Regions from separate parts of the Homo sapiens genome. Here region 2 is linked to region 1. The links come from fine-mapping of genetic effects on gene expression. A gene starts in region 1. The other region holds a variant in brackets. All regions are shown on one strand. Distances are between the middles of the regions.

What was found.
Region 2: its variant is fine-mapped to the expression of GAS7 in whole blood (TOPMed, PIP 0.92).

The regions. Positions count from the first base shown.
Region 1 is chr17:10,197,289-10,200,187 of GRCh38, forward strand. It overlaps GAS7 (growth arrest specific 7), which reads right to left and starts at 1,318. Exons shown (of 14, transcript NM_201433.2): 1 at 920-1,318. The coding sequence starts at 1,102.
Region 2 is chr17:10,013,736-10,016,634 of GRCh38, forward strand. The region is part of intron 2 of GAS7 (growth arrest specific 7); the gene reads right to left. Among named protein-coding and RNA genes, the nearest start is that of RCVRN, 110 kb to the left of the region's middle. The variant A/T (reference allele first, on the strand shown) is at 1,815.

The DNA of each region.
Region 1 (2,899 bases):
GTTTTACCAGAATGTTTAGGAATACTGACACCATTGAAGGTAACTGTTAATTTAGTCTTTACAAGAATCCTGGGGGCAGGCGGGCTTCTAGTAAAGGGGATGTCCTGGAAGGTCACCCCCCCACACACAAAGGACTTTAGAAACTTCGGGTCTCACTCAGGCTGTGACTGCGAGCTCAGTGATTAGAGGACAGCCTGTCACATAGACAATAAACAGCCAGCCGCCTTGCCTCAGCAGGTCCTGTGCAGCCCTGGGGCCAGGCCAGAACCCCAGGAACAAGCCACTTTCGGGTTCTGAGCCTTAGCCTCGGGGAGCTGGACCAGGGGAGCAGGCAGTGGCGGGGGGTGCTACGGCACCCCAGGATCAAGCCTGCTGAGGGGGCTCGGGCTGGTGGCCAGCAGGCTCGGCTGACCAGCAAGTGGGTGGTCCCGAGGCGGCCAGGCAGCCTGACCCAAGGCAGCACGACCGTCCACGGGTCATCAGGCTCTAGACTCCGGGGTGGAGACGCGGGGCTGCGGGACCGAGTCGGTGCCACTTTCTCGCACCCCTGATCCTCCGTGCCTCTTCCCAAGACCGCCAGACCCTTCACCGGCCCCTGCCACTGCCGGGAACGCTCCCGCCTGCTCCTTAACTCACACAGGCAACAAGTTCTCGCTTCCTCAGAGCAGCCACGGTGTGCTCCGGAGGCCCGGCGCAAGGTGGAAGCTCCCCGCGAGTCCGCGTTGCCCACGCCCCGAGGGGCGCCCGCTGCCGTCGCTGCCCCCCAGGAGCGTGGAGCTACAGGTAGCGCCGGCAAGGGCTGCCCCCCGGGGCGCCCCTCCGACCGGGACGCTGCGGCATCCCCGGAACGGGCAACAGGTACGCGAGCGCACCGAGGACCGCAGCCCCGGCTCCTACAGCCCCGGCCCTCGCCCCTTACCTCCAGCAACTGCACGTAGCTCGCCGGGAACCAGCCACGGAGCCCGTCCTCCTTCTCGCCTTCCCACCAGCCGCCGTCCGGGACCTGCAGCAGCGTGATCAGCTCGCCCGCGGCGAAGCGCAGCCCCTGGCCGTGCCGCTCCCCGGAGAAGGGGTACAGGGTCCGGCAGCGAGCGCCGGACATGGCCTTGGCGCCCGGGTTCACAGCGCAGCCTGCATTCCCGCCGAGCCCCACGGGCTGGGCAGCGGCTCCGCGGGGTCCCAGGCGCCCGGCGCTCCGGGCTCCCGCGCTCTGGGCGCGCGCCGTCTCTGGGGTGCGCGGGGGTCCTCAGGCAGGCGGGGGACGCGCGCTCCGCGCCGGGAAGCAGAGACTCGTTGGCTTCGCAGAGCGAGCGGCGACGCCCCCGGGCCGGGCAGCTCGCGGATCCTAGCTCTGGGCTGGGGGGCGGGGCTCAGGGGGAGGAGACCCAGGCGCCGCGGGCTCCGGAGACAACTTCCCGGGAACGCGGAACGCGGGCTGCCGCCGCGAGGGCTGGCCGGGGCCGGGGCCGGGACCGGGGCCGGGGCCGCCCTGGCGCGCGGAAATGCGCAGCTCCCCCGGGAGGTGGGACCCGGAGCATCCCCCGCGGCAGGACTCCGCGGCGGGCGGCCGTGGAGAGGAGCTGGCGGCCGGGTGGCCGGGCGGGGGTTAGCTCACTGGCGAGGGGGCGGGCCGGGGCGGGGCCAGGGCGGCCACGCCCGCGGAGGGCTGCGCGCTCCCTCGCAGAGGGGCCTGTCACTGGGGAGAGGGGCTCCCACTCGCGCCCCCACCGCCGGGGACCGCGGGAATGGAAACGCCCCTCTGTTCTGTGCCTGCTTTGTAGGCCTGGCGGCCCGTGGCGTGCGGGCGGCTTCTTCGAGGTGTCTGCGAGGGATCGTTTGTGGTTGTCATTGTAGTGGTTGAACCTGGGGTTGAACTTGTCTCACCGGAAACTGAACAATGGGTGAAAGACAGGTTTGAAGCCTGGCGCCTGAGCCCAGCAGCCTGGTGGCAGCGTGGCACGCTGGAGGGACGGAATGGAGAGAAGACGGGGTCGGAGTTGATAGAATTGGAAACAGTCGATGGGGATAAATGGAGGAAAGGCGAACGGTGAGAGGAACAGCACCAATGCTTTTACTTGCAGAGGGAAGGCCGGCCCAGGGTACCAGCCCTCCCGAAATCGAGATGGGTTGGCTAAAGAGTCTACACTCATGTAGTCAGTCAACAAACATTACCAGGAGGCTGCCATGTTCCATGCGATGTGCCAGGTACTACAAACATCATTTGGGCCAGTCCCTGCTCTCCAGGGACCAGTGAACCTGAGTGCTGCAGAATGTTGACCTTGAACTGACCGTACAGAAGTAAAAGAAAGCTTGGTTTCTTTGCTAGTCTACTCCATAAAAAATTTTAAAGAAATAAAATAAAGTACATTTTTTAGCCTGTAAATAGCTGGACTCGGCCAGGCGCGGTGGCTCACGCCTGTAATCCCAGCACTTTGGGAGGCTGAGGCGAATGGCTCACTTGAGGTCAGGAGTTCAAGACCAGCCTGGCCAACAAGGTGAAACCCCATCTCCACTAAAAATACAAAAATTAGCCGGGCGTGGTGGCGGGTGCCTGTAATCCCAGCTACTCAGGAGGCTGAGGCAGGAGAATGGCTTGAACCCGGGAGGTGGAAGTTGCAGTGGGCGGAGATCATACCACTGCATTCCAGCCTGGGTAACAAGGGTGAAACTCCGTCTCAAAAAAAAAAAAAGCTGGACCCTTTAATACGCCTGTATACCTCTGTCTACTCCTTCCCCCCTCCCCCAGTCACCTTCTGTGGCTCCCTATTGCCTTTTAAATTTGGTACAAACTTCTCTGCCTGTACATTTCAGGCCCTCCACAACGCCTCCTCTAGCTTCACCTCTTACTATGACTGCCTAGATATCCATTACAAAACCAGTCAGGCCGGGCTCCAAGAGC
Region 2 (2,899 bases), 180 kb before region 1:
CCTGATCTATATTTCAGTCTGTCCCTGACTACCCCTCCCTATCTATTCTCCCTTGCCTTTGATGACATTACCTTCTCCTGGATTCCTTGTATCTCTGACAATTCCTTCAAGGTCTCCTTGGCTGCTGCCTTACACCTGTGCTGCAAGGCCCCGGGTGATCTTCTACATCCTCATCACTTCACCTCTCTGCTGATGAAACACAAATCCTGGGCCACCCTCTGTGGCTGGGCAGGTTGGTCACTGCGCAACAGTGGCCAGGCCATGTACCCACATGGCTCACCAAGTTCCCATCTCTAGCTCAGAAGTCCTCTAAGTCACACCGTAGCCATCCAAATGCCAGCCATCTCTCCCAGAACGCACCCCAGGGAACCACACACTCAGCATGGACTCATTTTTCTTTCTTCCTAACCTGTTCCTCCCTTGAATACCCTATACTCACTGTATGGTCCCATCACACAAGGCAGAAAACCCGGAGGAATCCAGGCACTTCCAATCCCTGACCTGCCACAGCCACATCCTGTCTGACAGATTCTACCTCCTCCTCTCCAGCCACTGCTGTAGAATTGGTGTTTGACCTCATTATTTCTCCTCTCATTTAGTCTGTCGGCCTCCACGCTTACCGGCCTTAAAGCCTTCGCTCTGCCGCACAAGCAGCCTTGCCACAATATTCTGATCATGTCACGCCACCGCCTGGAAATTTCCCATGGATTCCCGCTGCCTACAGGATAAAGACCTGACTCCTCAAAATGCCCCAAGGCCCCTGACTCTCTCTCTCACCTCTTTCTTCCTTAACCAATGCCAAACACATCCGCTGTTTTTCTCTCCTGCCTGGTCTTTACTCATGCTGTAACCTTGGCTTGGAATGCCTGAGTCAAGGCCGCCCCCTCCCCCTGCAAAGACTTGGTTAATACCCAGATCAAGCTGACTACTCCCTTCCTCGAGCCCCCAGATTTCCACACGAATACCTGTAACACTTATAGGTTTATATGTGTCTCTGGCCCTATTAGAACTGCAGGTTCTGAGATCACAGACAGCATCTAGTTTGATTTTGGATCCCCAGAGCCCGGCTCAGTGGCTAGCACAGTGACAACCTCATCCATAAAATCCTAAATGGATGTGAAAATAAGCAGATTAGCCAGCCAGGTGCGGTGACTCACGCCTGTAATCCCAGCACTTTGGGAGGCTGAGGAGGGGTGGATCATGAGGTCAGGAAATCAAGACCATGCTGGCCAACATGGTGAAACCCTGTCTCTACTAAAAATACAAAAAAATAGCTGGGTGTGGTGGCGCATGTCTGTAATCCCAGCTACTCAGGAGGCTGAGGCAAGAGAATCGCTTGAACCGGGGAGGCGGAGGTTTCAGTGAGCCGAGATCGCACCACTGCACTCCAGTCTGGCGACAGAGCGAGACTCTGTCTCAAAAAAAAAAGAAAAGAAAAGAAAAGAAGCAGATTAGCCAAGGCAAGGTAATACAAATGTAAATTAGACTTTCAACTGGTTATAGGTGTAAAAATGGGGACAGAACACCTATTATCCCCAGGCACCCTCTGGAAAAGAAGAGATTAGGGATTAAGGGAGAAAGACTAGAAGCGTCTGGAAGAAAGGTAGACAGACAAAGAGGAAGAGAAGAATGGCCTGCTTAGAACCGGGACTGCACTTTCTGGGCACTGGGCTAGCATGTGGATGAAATGCCACCTGGAGAGCGACAGAGCAAAGATGCTTAAGCAAGGGGCCAGGCAGAAAGGCAGATAGATGCAGCTGGCCCAGCAGTGAGGAGGCACAAGCTCAGGTGCCTCCAGGAGTCAGGAGGTAAGA[A/T]AAACATGAGTGGCTATTCTCATAGATGCCTTCCTGCAGAAAGGCAGGCAGATTAAAATATATTTAAAACATCCCTACAGCCAAACAAAACAAGTCTAAGAAACGATTCCAGAGGAGAATCAGAAAGATAGCTGCTTTCCTTCTCCCTTAGACTGCCGAGCAAAATTATTAATATGATGTTCATGGGCTGCATGATCCCTACAAACACAGCTGACTCTTTGCCATCAGTAAGACACTCCCCATCCCCTAGCCCTTCCTTACCCTTCCCATCCTGCAGCTTCCTTCTCCAGGAAGCCTCCCCTGATTCCCCAGGGTCTCTCTGTGACATGCTCTTAAAACACCCTGGACTCCTGCTTCACAACCCTTTCCTGATTGATCAAATAGGTTTTCACTTAAAATCTGTTCCCACTATAAGAAGATAAACACTTGCAGGGCAGAGACTTTGTTCTTATTAAATCCCCAGTATCCCAAGACTCACTCTGCCTGGTACATATTTGAGGCTCAAACTATGTGTTGAAGGAATGATTCAATCAAACAGATAAACAATAAGTTAAGGTCGGGCACGGTGGCTCACGCCTGTAATGCCAGTACTTTGGGAGGCCGAGGCAGGCGGATCACAAGGCCAGGAGATCGAGACCACCCTGGCTAACACGGTGAAACCCCATCTCTACTAAAAATACAAAAAATTAGCCAGGTGTGGTGGCAGGCACCTGTAGTCCCAGATACTTGGGAGGCTGAGGCAGGAGAATGGCATGAACCCGGGAGGCGGAGCTTGCAGTGAGCCGAGATCGCGCCACTGCAGTCCAGCCTGGGTGAAAGAGCGAGACTCCGTCTCAAAAAAAAAAAAAAAAAAAGAGTTAAACAAGTAATGAATAAAACTGGCATATATCTAGAATGTAAGACCAAGGTAGGTGCTGGAATTATTTTTAGCATAAAAGAGGAGAGAGCCGAGCACGGTGGCTCATGCCTATAATCTCAGCACTTTGGGAAGCAGAAGTAGAAGCCAGAAGTTCGGGATCAGCCTAGGCAACATACTGAAACCCTGTCTCTACCAAAAAAAAAAAAAAAAAAAAAACAAAACAAAA